Homo sapiens: one gene and its partner. The protein of the gene in region 1 interacts with the protein of each later gene in a pairwise test. Each region holds a gene or a part of one and is shown on either strand. Other genes may lie near its edges. The genes, in order: MAPKAPK3 and THAP12.

Region 1 (7,879 bases):
CCCTCAAAGGGGACATGGATTAGATGTGGCTCCCACTCCAGGACCTTCCTGTTCTTAGTATCACTAGTGACCAAGCCTAGAAGTCCTTACCCAGCTAAGCAGGCATTTACTATCTCCCAATATTGGGCTAAGCACAACCTCTGGTACAGTTATTTTACCTGTCTTGTGAGTGGTAGCTGTGGCCACGAGGAGGAAGGTGACATCTCCCCACTTATAGCTTCTGCCCATTGCCCAGGAAGACCAGGACCTGGGGACCTCAGTACATGGGCAGGCCTGGGCCCAGGGAGCTTAGCCAGCTCATGATGGATCACAGTCCTCTCCTTGCATCTGCCTAGCCCTCTCCCCGCAGTTGCCCCAGCTCAGCCTAGGCAACAGTCGTGGGCTCTGTGTCTTTCTGCCTCCCTGGTGATGTACTCCAGGTTAACCAGGGTGGCCTGTCCTCATCTTATAACTTGACCTTGTTCAGGCCATCTCTGCCCATTTGTCTCATGCTCATCCTCTTGGCTCTGTTGCCCAAGATGGAAGATAGTGCTTAACAGGAAGCCTGAAACTCAGCAAACACTCATAAAACAGGAAGAGCTGTGGCCACTGTCCTTGTAACTGTTGCTATTCTGTGGAGGCCCTAGAGGAGCAGGTCCCTCCCTCCCAGGGAGCTGGGCCTCTTCCGCTTTCCCTTAGCCCCTGACCACCTGCTTGGTTCATCTTGGCCTCAGTCATACTCAGTGGCTCCCTCCCAAGGCTACCTTCTGCTGCCAGTGCAGCCATTCTACTCCATTGTACCCCAAGCCCTCATTGCTGTCCTCTTGGCAGGAACTGGAGGACTGCCTTTCTTGGAGAGGGTGTATGGGCCAGGCGGTCCTCCAGTGTCTGCTTCTCCTGCTGACCTCTTGCTTGTGCCCTCTCCCAGGCTTAACTAGTTAATTAGTACCTTCAGCTTTCCCTCTAACTGGGCACAGCCCTGCAGATTTGTCACACATCAGTTACCCCACCACATCCAAGATCCAGTCCTTCAAACTTTATCACATACATGAAAATTGGGACCCAAAGTGAGTCACACGGTTTGAAGTGGGGGGTGTAGCAGAGGCCCGAATTTTCTCCCCTCCTGACATCCTGCCCAGCCCTCTTGTGGTTTTTGGCCTCTTGGCAGGCAGAAGTGACCATGGCACTTAGTATCTCTAAATAAAAGCAATAGGCTGGGTGCGGTGGCTTGTGCCTGTAATCCCAGCACTTTGGGAGGCTGAGGCAGGAGGATCATTTGAGTCCAGGAGTTTAAGACCAGTCTTGGCAACATGGTAAGACCCTTATCTCTACACAAAATTTAAAAATTAGGGCTGGGTATGATGACTTATGCCTGTAATTCCAGCACTTTGGCTGAGGCGGGAGGATCACTTGAAGTCTGGAGCTCGAGACCAACCTGGCCAACCTGGCAAAACCTTGTCTCTACTAAAAATAAAAATACAAAAATTTGCTGGACACAGTGGCGGGCGCCTGTAATCCCAGCTACTGGGGAGACTGAGGCAGGAGAATCGCTTGAACCTGGGAGGCGGAGGTTGCAGTGAGCCGAGATCACGCCACTGCACTCCAGCCTGGGTGACAGAGTGAGGCTGTGTCTCAAAAAAAAAAAAAAAAAAAAAAAGTAGCCAGGTGTGGTGGCACACACCTGTAGTTCCAGCTACTCAAGAGGCTGAGGTGGAAAGATGATTGCTCGAGCCTAGGGGTTTGAGGCTGCAGTGAGCTGTGGTCATGCCACTGTACTCCAGCCTGGGTGACAGAGTGAGACCCATCTCAAAAATTGAAAGAAAGAAAAGCAATAAAAGGCCTTATGGAGACATAATGGTGGGGTCTTCTTTCCTGCCCCTGTGTTATGGACTGTGGGGCTGGGGGCTCTTCCCCTCTGACCCCTAAAGCATTTTGGAGGCTCTTCTAGGCTCCCAGTGCCCTCTTCTTCCCTTCTTTGTTAAGGAGAGTAGAGTGGTGGGGTGGTGGATCCACATGTCCAGGAGACCTCTGCAGAGTCCTCTGGGTCAAGTCTTTGTAGCAGCCATCTTCCTTCTGGTTCCCAGGATCTGGGGAGGTTGCTGGGGCTGCTGCCTCTGGGACAGTTTCCTTCCCCTTGATGCCAGTTGGCTTCCGTGAGCCAGGCTGCTCTGCATGTGGGATCTCAGTGATGCCTCAAAGCACAACACAGAAGAGGGCATATTTCTCCTGACAGATGGGAAACTAAGCTCTGGAGACCAGGAGGAGATCTCACAGGGATTTGAGATTACACAGGGATGCTGGGACTTGGCTGTGTATGTTCTGAGCCTCTAACTGTGGCATTCAAAGTCTCTGCAGTCCAGCCCACCTCCCTTTTCTACTTTAGGTGACATCTTTCCTTCTCCAGCACTGAAGAATTTCTTCTCATCTGTCAAGACTCAGCCCCAGTGCCACCTCTTCCAGGAAGCTGCCCAGAGTTCCTGGCTTTGGGGCAATGGAACCTTCTTTGACCCCTTTGATAATACTCCCCTTTGATTCAAAGCTCTTTTATAGCACCTAGGCCCAAGGCCTGGCATATATCAGAGATTCATGAATGCTTATGAAAATGACCAGGCTCTGGCCCCTCTGAGCTTTGGAAGGAGCATCAGGAGCTGGACTTTTTCCAGGTTGCACCTTCTCCACAGGAGAGGGGTTCTTTGATTACAGCTCAGAGATAAGCCACAGAGAAATGCTATTTCTACTCTCCTAAGATCTGGGAATTCACAATGGAATCTAACAGTTCCACTGCCTCAATAGACCTCATGGAGAATTCCTGGGAGAAAGGAAATGCCCATTCATGAGGCCATTTCTGCTCCCTGCCTGCTGTCCAGGCTGCACCTCTGAGTAGACAGAGGGGCTCTGTATAACCAGAATGCCAAAAGGAAGATAGAACATGATGGATGCAGAGACTGGGAAGCAATGGATCCAGAGCCCAGTACCCTGGATGCCTCACTCTCCCTGGGGGGATGGTGCCCACTGCTCCAAGGGTGAGGCTGGCCTGTTGGGGCTGGTACTGTTGAGCTGGATTTGAAGCCAGGTGAAGCTGCCAGGCAGGCCAGGCCCTTTTTCATTTGGCAGCCATCATCCCCTCACCTACCATCTCCAGACCGGTCAGATCAGCCTCTGCAGGGCCACTTGTTAGAGTCAACAAATCAGGAGGCACATGGAGGGACTATGCAGCCGGTACAATAGAGTCCCTGGAAATAGTTTCACTGCCCCCTGGGTTCTCCCAACGCTGCTCCTTACCTAGAAGGAAAGAATCTGAGGAGCCAGAGTGTTAACTGCCAGGGATGAGCAATTTGCTTTTTCATGAAGATCCTGGGGAGGGCATCAAACCCTACAAAATGCAAATAGTGGAATTTTAGGCAGAGGTTGATTGTTCTGAGATGGTTCGTACCGTGCCTGGCTGGCCTTGCTTACTGTTTTCGAAGCTGTGCTCCCAGCCTACTCTCAGGATCACCTCTGCTGGGGCTTCTAGGATCTTTTCCCATCCCATCTAGGAACTGATGCCAGCTCTCCAGGATTCAGGCCTTGGTGCTGTGGATTCTGATACCCCCATAAACGGCTAACAGTTTTTCAGAGCATTCTGCCCAGCGGGCCCTGTCCACAGTGCACAACAAGGCACAGAATGAGTTGTCTTACCTAACTCTTATCACTCCCATTATATGGATGAGGTTCAGAGGTCAGCAGCTTGCCCAAAGTGCTCAACTAGTGGGTAGCAGGGCTGAGCTGTGAGCCTAGGCAGTTTGATGCCAGAGTCCTAGCATCTAAGTCATCTCACTCCTCATGCAAGTCTGTGGGGACACGGGAGGGTCTCTGAGACTTGGTCCTTGGAAAGATGCTGGCATTGTCCTCTCTGGCTCCACTGGGAGCCCTGGCAGCCCCAGCTGGGCCCTGAGTGATGCTGCCAGTGTCTACCTACATCTGCTCAGTCCTCCTCACTGTATGGAACTCTGTGCCAGTGATTGGACAGGTGGCAGTCCCATGAGGCCAGCACACAAGGACCATGATGACTGTGAAGGCCACCTCAGAAAGGTCGTGTGCCTTTTCCCAGGCCTTGTGAGTCTCAGACAAGTGCAGCTGGGCAGAGCCCAGAGCACCACGGGCAGGAAATCAGACTGGTGAGTGGGCGAGTGGAAACTGTATCTGGGCTGGGCCAGCTAGGAGAGGCTTCCTGGAAGAGGTTGCCAGTTTAATTCAGACCTCTGGTTTGAGAAGGATGTGGATGACAGAGGAAGGCACAGGGTGTATGTGTGTGCCTGTGTGTGTGTGCACTCACGTGTGTGTGTGTGTGTGTGTATGTGTATGTGTGTGTGCATGTGTGTGACAATATGCCTGGTTTAGACATTCAGCACCTGCTGTGGAGTACCAGTTTCCCACTCGCAGACCTGTGTTCTGGCAGGATGTGGTTGACCTCAGCAGGGCCGGTGTCAAAGTCCTGACAAAGACTGGGAAGCTGAGGGAGGACCAGAGGAATCTGTGGAGGAAGAGGCGTTTGTGTAGGGCCTTGAAGGGTAGAGCACCATTGCTGAGGGTGCTGCAGGGACTCCTGGGTCACTTGGGCTGTTGTTCAGACTATATGGGAAGGACTCAGTTTTCATTACAACAGAGGTCTGTTGTATCTCTTCTGAGCTTCACACCTGGGGAAGTGGAGTTAGATCCCTCATTTTCCTCTGCTGGGGACATCATCATGGAAGATCTCTGGGTGGAGGCAGTAGTTGGAACATCTGGCTCTGTAAGCCCGCAACCTCCCTTGGCTCCAGGCTGCCATGTCTAATGGTGAAGGCCCATGGGCAAGAGCTGAGGACATCCCTAGGTGAGAGGCATTCCAAGCATACCTGTGCCATGAGAGTGTGCACAAAGCGCTTCCTGGAGAGCTGGCTCTGCTGCTCTCAGGACAGTGAGACCATGGCTCCTGTGAGCACTGGTGTTTTCCCTGGAGAACATTAGTTCTACTGCTCTCCCTCCATCTATTGGACATCTTGTGTGGTCCCAGATGAAAGGCCCCATCTTGGGGTTGAGAGAGGAACAGTGCTCTCGGCTTAAAATGCTTTCTGTGACATTCTCCCCAAGTGACTTTGGACTAAAGGCAGTTTCATAATCTTTTGCAAAACCATCATCTTTGTGGTGCAGTTGAACCCTGGGTTTGAATATGTGGTGGGGAGTAGGATCCAGTCTCGGTGACTGTTACTATCCCTGCATTCATGCTATGAGACAACATAGGCCGGCAGACACTCAGAAGGCAGGGCTCTCATTTGGGGTGGCCTGGGTGCATTTGCTGGTGAAACATTATTGGTTTTTATGAGGACTCACTTGGGTGCGCCCTGCACCTGGGGAACCCAGCCCCTTGAGGGACAGGAAAGAATGGCGTGAAGGGAGCTCTGGGTCCTGGGCTCCTCCCCACCCTCCTGCCCGTTTGGAACTAAGTGGATTAGGCCCTGTGCAATTGTGATTAAAATCCTGCTGTGTGGGAACCGTGGAGGTTTGGCTTAGAGCAGGAACACGAGGCTCCCGTTTGGGGAACAAGGAGCCTCAGGAGGCCCTTTCAGCACTAGACAGGCCAGAGATGCTGAAAAGATTGCTTTTGTTTTTGAGGCGGGTTTGGGATTAGGGTTGCCTTTTTCTTTAGACTAGGGCTTTGTCTTTGCTGCCTTCTCCTCATGGCACTAGCGATCTTTCTGTCCTCTGCCTCCTCGTCCCTCTCATTTCTCCTTTTCCACCTGTTTCTCCTGCTATCGCTCTGTCCCCGCTCTCCCGGGCCTTGCCAGTTTGCCTGTCTCGTGTGTTTCAGGCCTCATGGCCTCTTTTCTGCAGCCTGGCAGGCTGAGGGCAGGCGGAGGACAGAGCAGGGCCAGGTCAGGTGCTAAGGACTCATCCTGGTCAGCGGGCAGCTCACTCCCCCACCCCCACCCCAGGGGAGGGTGGGGGTGGGGAAGGAAGGAGGAGTGAGTGCTGTACCCATGCCACTCACAGTGTCCCCTCCTGCTGCCCGCCTTGACCAGGTGTCAGCAGCCTTGGCAGTCAGAACAGTGGACTCAGGAGTTCTTGGGCTGAGCTGTAACCTGAGGAGGTCCCCCGCCACCCCCCCATGGCTTGTGTGAAGTCAACTTCAGCTGCAGTCTCTGCTGTTGGGTCTCCTTTTACGGCCCAATGGTCTGAGACTTTTGCTTGGGACAATTGTGTGGGACTAGGCACAGTACGACCCCCAAGGGTTCCCTAGCCACAGTGAGGTATAGACAGGGCTGAGATCTGACCTGAGTCAGAGCCTTAGAGCCAGCCAGAGGAGCTGGTGGGAGTCTGGGAGGGCTCAAGGTATGAGGTGCAACCTACCGCCATTTTTACAGAGGGCAGAGCTGAGTGTGAGCTGCACCTGCACTAGCTGGTGTGAACACTCAAGACTCTCTAGCTGGCACCCTGCACCTGACCACCCTTGCCCTGCTAAGGCTCAGAGGCTACATTCAGGGGCCTGAGGGACCAGGACCTTGAGCTGCCACACTCATTTCCCCATTCTTAAGGGTTCAGCCTCCACAAGAGACCCATAGCTCATCCACAGATGCTCACCCAACATTAACAGCCCCCTTCTCAGGATGTGGTAGAAGGACTGGCAGGTGTTCTCCGTGCTTTCTGGCAGGCAGTGGCACAGGGGGCAGGGGGATGGCAATAAGGGCACCCACTTGCTGAGTGCCTCCTACATGTCAGGCACAAACACTGCAGAATCAGAATGGATTATCACGCCCATGCCATGGATGCAGAGACAGGTTCAGAAAGGCAGAGTAACTCACCCAGGGTCACGTAGTATGGACATGGCCCTGTGCTGGAACCCAGGCCTGGCTCTCAGCCATTCCTCTCTGCGTGTGTGCTCCTCTGGGGATCAGGAGCCACAGTCTGCTCATCAGCAAAATGAGAGCCTGGGCCGGGCGCAGTGGCTCATGCCTGTAATCCCAGCACTTTGGGAGGCTGACGCGGGTGGATCACCTGAAGTCAGGAGTTCGAGATCAGCGTGGTGAAACCCCGTCTCTACTAAAAATAGAAAAATTAGCTGGGTGAGGTGGCACATGCTTGTAATACCAGCTACTTGAGAGGCTGAGGCAGGAGAATCACTTGAACCCGGGAAATGGAGGTTGCAGTGAGCTGAGATTGCGCCATTGCACTCTAGCCTGGGAGTCAAGAGTAAAACTCCATCTCAAAAAAAAAAAAAAAAAAAAAATGAGGGCCTGGGTGCTCTGCTTGGCAAAGGCCTCCCTTTTGGCTGTGAAGACATGTTAGGTGGGCAATGATCATCGGCAGTGCCAGGGAAGCAGGCAGGTCGTGGGGGCCTGCCTTGCCCACTGCTGGTGCTGATCTTGCAAGTAGACAGACAGCATAGAGACTGGTCAGAGGGTGCCCCAGGATGCCTCTCCCACACCAGTCAGCAAATGGTGTTGTCAGGGGAACATTTGGCTATGGTGATGCCACCAGCAAGGGCTATATTCTGCCAGGGTCAGGAGCTCTGAGGGTTATGACTCAGGTTTGGAGACCCCTTCCGCTGTACTTCATGGACTAATTAAGTGCTTGAGTCAGGCTGAGCCAGTACCAGGGTGTGTCCTTACCCTAGGCAGGCCCAGGAGAGGGGGAGTGAGTCACTGCCGCCTAGTCTCGTGGCAGGAACAGGCAGTGTCCCTCAGAGCTGCCAGGCCACCACCCTGGTCCCCTAGAGGGCAGGGCCTCCCCCTCTTCCTCATAGCTATGGCTCCATGGTGTGATCAGAGACTAGGAAAGCCTTCTGGGAGTAGGCTGGGTGTCGGTGCCTTGGGAGTCCTCTGGCTGAACGTGAGCAGGAGGGGAGAGGGGCCAGGGGCCAAGGGAGACTGGAAGCCTGGATGGC
Region 2 (7,879 bases), on another chromosome or scaffold:
ATTTTTAATTGCTATATGATATTTTAAATTTTAAATGTTATTAAGAGATACGTAGAGGATACATATAGTCTATGTGATGTTGATTCTTTCTGATTTTTTTGCATCCATTATTGCTATTCAAGTCTGTGCCAGCCTGATTCTTGTTCCTTTTTAGGTAATCTTCTTTTCTCCCTCAAAGCTTTTTAGAAGGTTTCTTTATATTTGACATTTTAAAATTTGCTAACCTGTATCTAGATGTGAGTTTTTTTTTTATGTACCTTAATTTGTCATCTTACAACTGAGGACTTACACCTTAAATTCTGAGAAATCCTTAGTTTTTATTTTTCTTTATGCATTTTCCCCTCTATTTGTTTATTTCTATTTTCCTGGGACTTAGATGAATACTGACACTTACATTACAGTCCTCCATATCAGCTTTCTTCTTGGTGTCCATGGAGGACTGATTCCAGGAGCTTCCCTCAGAGAGCAAAATCCACAGATACTTGATTCCCTTATATACAGTGGTGTAGTATTTGCATATAACTTACACACATCCTCCCGTGACTTTAAATCATTTATAATACCTAATACAATGTAGTGCTATGTAAATAGTTGTTCTGTTACATTGTTTAGAGAATAATGACAAGAACAAAAATCTGTGTGTTCAGTATAGACACAACCATCCTTTTCTTTTTTTTTTTTTTGAGACAGAGTCTCGCTCTTGTTGCCCAGGCTGGAGTGCAAGGGTGCGATCTCAGCTCACCGCAACCTCCGCCTCCCGGGTTCAAGCAATTCTCCTGCCTCAGCCCCCCGAGTAGCTGGGATCACAGGCATGTGCCACCACGCCCGGCTCTTTTTGTATTTTTAGTAGAGACGAGGGTTCTCCATGTTGGTCAGGCTGGTCTTGAACTCCCGACCTCAGGTGATCCTCCCGCCTCAGCTTCCCAAAGTGCTGGGATTACAGACGTGAGCCACCATGCCCGGCACAACCATCCATTTTCAAATAATACCTAGATTATTTATGATACTTAATACATTTATGTGTTTGTAACACCTACTACAATGTAAATGCTATGTAAATAGTTATGCTACGTTATGTAGGGGAAGAATGAGAAAAAAAGTCTGTACATGTTCAAGATAGATACAACCATCCATTTTTTCCCCAGCATTTTCAATGCATGGTTGGTTAAATCCATAGATATGAAGTGTAATATGTATCAGGATGAGGAGCTCAATCACTTGCTGTCCTGTAGCTATCATTTCCCTGTAGTCTGTCCCTCAGAGAGCCTCACATATCTCACAGCAGGCATACTCTTCCTGACCCACCATCCTTATAAACGTGCAGTCCGTAGGATAAGGAGGGGATGTCCAGGTTGACCAGCCTGCTGATGTTTCTTGTTATCAGCACCATGTCCAGTGCTGCCCAACAGGCATCCTGCTGTCTTCAGCTGTCACTGGCATTGCTGCTTTTCTGCCACAGAAAGTAACAGGTGGCTCATGATTTAAGCATTGTAGAGGGTTGGAAGGAAAGTAAAGGATGCAGCTGGAAAGTTCTTCCTTTGTCTAACCCTATTGGTGCCACTTGGCCTACTATGCTCTGTGTATGCTCTGTGTATCTCTTCCATGCTGGTACTTTCACCTTCTGCTTCTCAGGGATTTCTCATCACTTTTGTGTTGAGTCCTGAGATTCAGCAACCTCCTTCTTATGGGACATCTCCAGGGTTAAATTGGGAAGTAAGATGATTTGTGTCCTCTTGAATTTAACTCCAAGTGCCATGGTGTATTTTTGTGCCTTTCATTAGCCAGTAAACACTTATAACCCAAAGTTACGATGATTTAGGTAGAAAATAAGCAAAATGATGTATTCTTTTTTCCCTAAGACTTTGTTATAACCTTGGAGTCATTAACAGCTTATTCTGGTTTTCTCATTGTCTGTTTGTTTGAAGAATGTGTACTATATAAAGAATTTATGCTCTTGAAAGAATTAAATTGACTCAGAATAGGCATTTGTATTTGTGAGTCTAAGATGATACACTAGAGGTCAGTTTTTTAAAGATGATTTGTTTTTTTCTTTTTTTTTCTTGACATTTAGAGTGAAGATGAAATCAGGACACTGAAACAGAAAAAAAGTAAGTGATAGTGTTAATGACTCAACTTCTGAATGCCTTTTAAAAAGGCCTTGACCTGGTAAGGACAAATAAATATGTTCTGTGTTGAAAACCTACCTTGAGAATGAATGTAGGAGTGTGCTCAATTTTGTCCTGTGTTTTGGAATTATCTATGAGACTAAAGTCTAATTTTAGTTTGTCTTTATTGAGTGCTGCAATGCCACACACTATGCTATATGCAGGCCTCATGGAGGTGACGCCTCCTCTCTCAGTGTGGTAGGGGTGGCAGGCACACAGTGCTCCATTGTAGGGAAGGAAGGGCAACAGTAGAGGCATGCACTGAATCTCTTTTTCTGTCCACCCAGTTGTGGTATGTAATAAATTCTTTGTAAATGTTTAAGGACTAAATGCTGTGGGGGCACATAGTGCCATTGTGAGTAGTGGTCACAACAGCCTTTCTGGAGGTGCTGATGTCCGAATTATGTCACCAAAGGACGAGGGCTAGAAGCTGTTTTTCTTCTTGTCAGTTATTAGTTACTCCTCCTCCTCTGTTTCTTCCTCCTATTGCTGTTATTATTAACGTAGCATTTTATTGAGTGCTTACTGATGCCAAATCATTGTTCTAAGTGCTTTACTTGTATTAATTAATTTAATTCTCACAATAGCCGTGAGATAAGTACTGTTATTTCCCTCTTTATGGATGAGGAGATATGGACTTGGGCAAAGAGAGGGAAAGGTATTCTGTGCACGAAACAGGGTGCTGTTTTGGGGAACTACACTCATTTTAGTGTTGTTAAAGTTTGTGATAACCCATTATGGTTAGAAAATAGCCTAGAGAGGACCCCAGAGGCCAGAACTTGCAGACTTGTGGGCTATTAGCAATAGGGAACCACTGAGGGGTTTATAAGTAGGTGATAACAGGGACCTGATTTCCATGGTACATAGAGTACTCTGTTGGATTAGAAAAGGTAACACTGGAGGCATGGAGGCTAGTTAGACTGTCAACTGACCAAATAAAAGTTGAAAGGCCTTGAATTAAGGCAATGGTAGAGAGAGTAAAGGGAATAGATTCAAGGAACTTAAGAAATTTGTATACCTATGACACCTAAAAAGATGTCCAAAAGAAGAGGGACTTGACTTTTCAGTTTGAACTCTTTGCTCTTTAATGAACTTCTTTTTGAAAAAAATAAAAGCAAGAGAATTAGTACTTGTTAATTGGAAGTGGAGAAATAATGGAGGAGAGAGGGAGGGAGCCAGACAGGCAGGCGTCCAGGATAACCTCTTGCTTTCTGGCTTGGGAAGCCTCCCTAGTATAGAACCACTGCTGTGTCACATATAATGAATAGCAGTGTCATCTGATTTGAGGAGGGGTGAAGGAAGGATGCTCCCTGCATTTTTCTGAACCCTTATGAAGCTCTGAAGCATGGCTCACACAGGCTCCGGTCAGACTAGATTTCCCTTTGTACTTGGGCAGCCTGCTTCCCTCTTCTACCTTAGTGCTTGTGCTAGAATAATTCTCACCAACTGAAATGCCCTCCTTGTTCATGTCCCCCTTATTTATCCTTGTCATCAAATGCAACTTCTGAATTTTTGTTTCTCCCCACCGCCCTCCATAGTCTTTTTTCTTTTTGAGACGGAGTCTCACTCTGTTGCCCAGGCTGGAGTGCAGTGGCACGATCTCGGCTAACTATAACCTCTGCCTCCTGGGTTCAGGCAATTGTCCTGCCTCAGCCTCCCGAGTAGCTGGGACTACAGGCATGTGCCACCACGCCCAGCTAATTTTTGTATTTTTAGTAGAGATGGGGTTTCACCATATTGGCCAGGCTGGTCTCAAACTCCTGACCTCGTGATCCACCCACCTCAGCCTCCCAAAGTGCTGGGATTACAGGCGTAAGCCACTGCACCCCCGGCCCTAGTCTTATGTTCTAAGAACTAGGTTTTAACTGTGCCTCCTCAGATTTGGATTATTTTCCTGCAGACACCACTGACCTGTATGACTATGGGCAGGGCATTTAGCCTGTAGGGCCTCAGTTTTCCTATCCCCTGTGAAGAGATTAGGCTAAGATGTGTGATATTCTAATACTAGCCCTAAGAGTTACATTAATCTCCTTTATATTATACTGGTTTGTACAGCTGTCCCATCTCCCATATAAATGTGTGGCATAATGGTTTGATAAAAACAGCATCAGCATGGATCTTGGAGCCAGACGCACTTGGATTTCAACTTTACTTCCATTCTTCTAACTGTATTTGTGATCTTGGGCAAGTTACTTAGTGTCCTTGTTTGTCAAGTGGGGCCGATACCACCTGCCTGAACAGAGAGTAATGTGATGCATATAAAATACTAAGCACAGTACCTTAGTAATTAGTTCTGTCCCACTTTGTTTTTCTGAGGGCATGGACTGTCATTCATTACATATGTGGAAAGTCTTGTTAAGTGTATTTTAAAAATTAGGCCGGATGTGGTATCTCACACCTTTAATCCTTGTACTTTGGAGCTGAGGTGGGAGGATCACTTGAGGCCAGGAGTTCAAGACCAGCCTGGGCAACATAGTGAGACTCCCCGCTCTACTTCTTAAAAAAAAAAAATTATTCCTATCTTGTAACAGCATTTACATCTAGGATTAAAATATATCTCTTTACACTGTTTGTCTCTCCCACTAGGATGTGTCTTATCTTAGTGTCTTATTTTAATCTCTGTCCTAGTCTGTGGTCTAGTAAATACCCTATGAATATTGAATGAATGAGTTTGTGGATTTTAAATATTTAACCAAAGATGTAATATTTTTTGTTGTGTATGGTTTTTCATGAGCCTGTTTGTAAAATTAATTCTTTGTTTTCCAGTTGATGAAACTTCTGAGCAGGAACAAAAACATAAAGAAACCAACAATAGCAATGCTCAGAACCCCAGCGAAGAAGAGGGTGAAGGGCAAGATGAGGACATTTTACCTCTAACCCTTGAAGAGAAGGAAAACAAAGAATACCTAAAATCTCTATTTGAAATCTTGATTCTGATGGGAAAGCAAAACATACCTCTGGATGGACATGAGGCTGATGAAATCCCAGAAGGTCTCTTTACTCCAGATAACTTTCAGGCACTGCTGGAGTGTCGGATAAATTCTGGTGAAGAGGTTCTGAGAAAGCGGTTTGAGACAACAGCAGTTAACACGTTGTTTTGTTCAAAAACACAGCAGAGGCAGATGCTAGAGATCTGTGAGAGCTGTATTCGAGAAGAAACTCTCAGGGAAGTGAGAGACTCACACTTCTTTTCCATTATCACTGACGATGTAGTGGACATAGCAGGGGAAGAGCACCTACCTGTGTTGGTGAGGTTTGTTGATGAATCTCATAACCTAAGAGAGGAATTTATAGGCTTCCTGCCTTATGAAGCCGATGCAGAAATTTTGGCTGTGAAATTTCACACTATGATAACTGAGAAGTGGGGATTAAATATGGAGTATTGTCGTGGCCAGGCTTACATTGTCTCTAGTGGATTTTCTTCCAAAATGAAAGTTGTTGCTTCTAGACTTTTAGAGAAATATCCCCAAGCTATCTACACACTCTGCTCTTCCTGTGCCTTAAATATGTGGTTGGCAAAATCAGTACCTGTTATGGGAGTATCTGTTGCATTAGGAACAATTGAGGAAGTTTGTTCTTTTTTCCATCGATCACCACAACTGCTTTTAGAACTTGACAACGTAATTTCTGTTCTTTTTCAGAACAGTAAAGAAAGGGGTAAAGAACTGAAGGAAATCTGCCATTCTCAGTGGACAGGCAGGCATGATGCTTTTGAAATTTTAGTGGAACTCCTGCAAGCACTTGTTTTATGTTTAGATGGTATAAATAGTGACACAAATATTAGATGGAATAACTATATAGCTGGCCGAGCATTTGTACTCTGCAGTGCAGTGTCAGATTTTGATTTCATTGTTACTATTGTTGTTCTTAAAAATGTCCTATCTTTTACAAGAGCCTTTGGGAAAAACCTCCAGGGGCAAACCTCTGATGTCTTCTTTGCGGCCGGTAGCTTGACTGCAGTACTGCATTCACTCAACGAAGTGATGGAAAATATTGAAGTTTATCATGAATTTTGGTTTGAGGAAGCCACAAATTTGGCAACCAAACTTGATATTCAAATGAAACTCCCTGGGAAATTCCGCAGAGCTCACCAGGGTAACTTGGAATCTCAGCTAACCTCTGAGAGTTACTATAAAGAAACCCTAAGTGTCCCAACAGTGGAGCACATTATTCAGGAACTTAAAGATATATTCTCAGAACAGCACCTCAAAGCTCTTAAATGCTTATCTCTGGTACCCTCAGTCATGGGACAACTCAAATTCAATACGTCGGAGGAACACCATGCTGACATGTATAGAAGTGACTTACCCAATCCTGACACGCTGTCAGCTGAGCTTCATTGTTGGAGAATCAAATGGAAACACAGGGGGAAAGATATAGAGCTTCCGTCCACCATCTATGAAGCCCTCCACCTGCCTGACATCAAGTTTTTTCCTAATGTGTATGCATTGCTGAAGGTCCTGTGTATTCTTCCTGTGATGAAGGTTGAGAATGAGCGGTATGAAAATGGACGAAAGCGTCTTAAAGCATATTTGAGGAACACTTTGACAGACCAAAGGTCAAGTAACTTGGCTTTGCTTAACATAAATTTTGATATAAAACACGACCTGGATTTAATGGTGGACACATATATTAAACTCTATACAAGTAAGTCAGAGCTTCCTACAGATAATTCCGAAACTGTGGAAAATACCTAAGAGACTTTTAAAAATAGGCTTTCTTATATTTGATATTTGGAAGAAAAAGCCGTAAGGTGTATGTAGACCACTTAATCACTAAATATCTTTGCCTATAGGACTCCATTGAATACATTAGCCATTGATAATCTACCTGTTTAAATGGCCCCTGTTTGAACTCTCAAGCTTTGAAGACCTACCTGTTCTTCCAGAAGAGAACGTTGAAAGTGCCATGTTTCCTTTTGCGTGATCTCTGTTGATGGCACTCTGGAATTGTTTCAGTTAAGTCATTTTAGACATAGCATTTATTATCACTGTGGATCTCTACTTGTTGGGTGTTATGAATTCTTTGAAGAAATATATTTTGAAGAGGTGTGGGAGGAAGGAATACATTTTATAAAATGTTGTAGTGAAGCCCACAATTGACCTTTGACTAATAGGAGTTTTAAGTATGTTAAAAATCTATACTGGACAGTTACAAGAAATTACCGGAGAAAAGCTTGTGAGCTCACCAAACAAGGATTTCAGTGTAGATTTTGTCTTTCTTGAACTTAAAGAAACAAATGACAAAGTTTGAATGGAAAAGCCTGCTGTTGTTCCACATCTCGTTGCTGTTTACATTCCTTTGTGGAGCCTACATCTTCCTAAGCTTTTTAGCAGGTATATGTTGAACACTTCTGTTTCATGGTTGAGACAGAATCAGAGGCCATGGATACTGACAACTGATTTGTCTGTTTTTTTTCTCTGTCTTTTTCCATGACTCTTATATACTGCCTCATCTTGATTTATAAGCAAAACCTGGAAAACCTACAAAATAAGTGTTGTGGTTTATCTAGAAAAATATGGAAAATATTGCTGTTATTTTTGGTGAAGAAAATCAATTTTGTATAGTTTATTTCAATCTAAATAAAATGTGAATTTTGTTTAAAGCTTAGGCACATTATTTTTTGTGGGGTCAAAACATTCTTGTGTAAATTCTCTTAAACATTTGATAAACAGCTTCACAATTCAAGGTGAGTCTTTTGTATGTGGTTTACT

Evidence for each region.
Region 2: the proteins of MAPKAPK3 (region 1) and THAP12 interact in a two-hybrid assay, tested with the Homo sapiens proteins (one study listed by BioGRID).

What each region holds. Positions count from the first base shown.
Region 1 is NC_000003.12:50,619,985-50,627,863, forward strand, and holds part of MAPKAPK3 (MAP kinase-activated protein kinase 3), read left to right. Parts: intron 1-7,879. UniProt on the Homo sapiens protein: Stress-activated serine/threonine-protein kinase involved in cytokines production, endocytosis, cell migration, chromatin remodeling and transcriptional regulation.
Region 2 is NC_000011.10:76,349,847-76,357,725, reverse strand, and holds the end of THAP12 (52 kDa repressor of the inhibitor of the protein kinase), read left to right. Parts: intron 1-2,071; coding exon 2,072-2,108; intron 2,109-4,931; coding exon 4,932-6,862; 3' UTR 6,863-7,770; downstream 7,771-7,879. UniProt on the Homo sapiens protein: Upstream regulator of interferon-induced serine/threonine protein kinase R (PKR). May block the PKR-inhibitory function of DNAJC3, resulting in restoration of kinase activity and suppression of cell growth.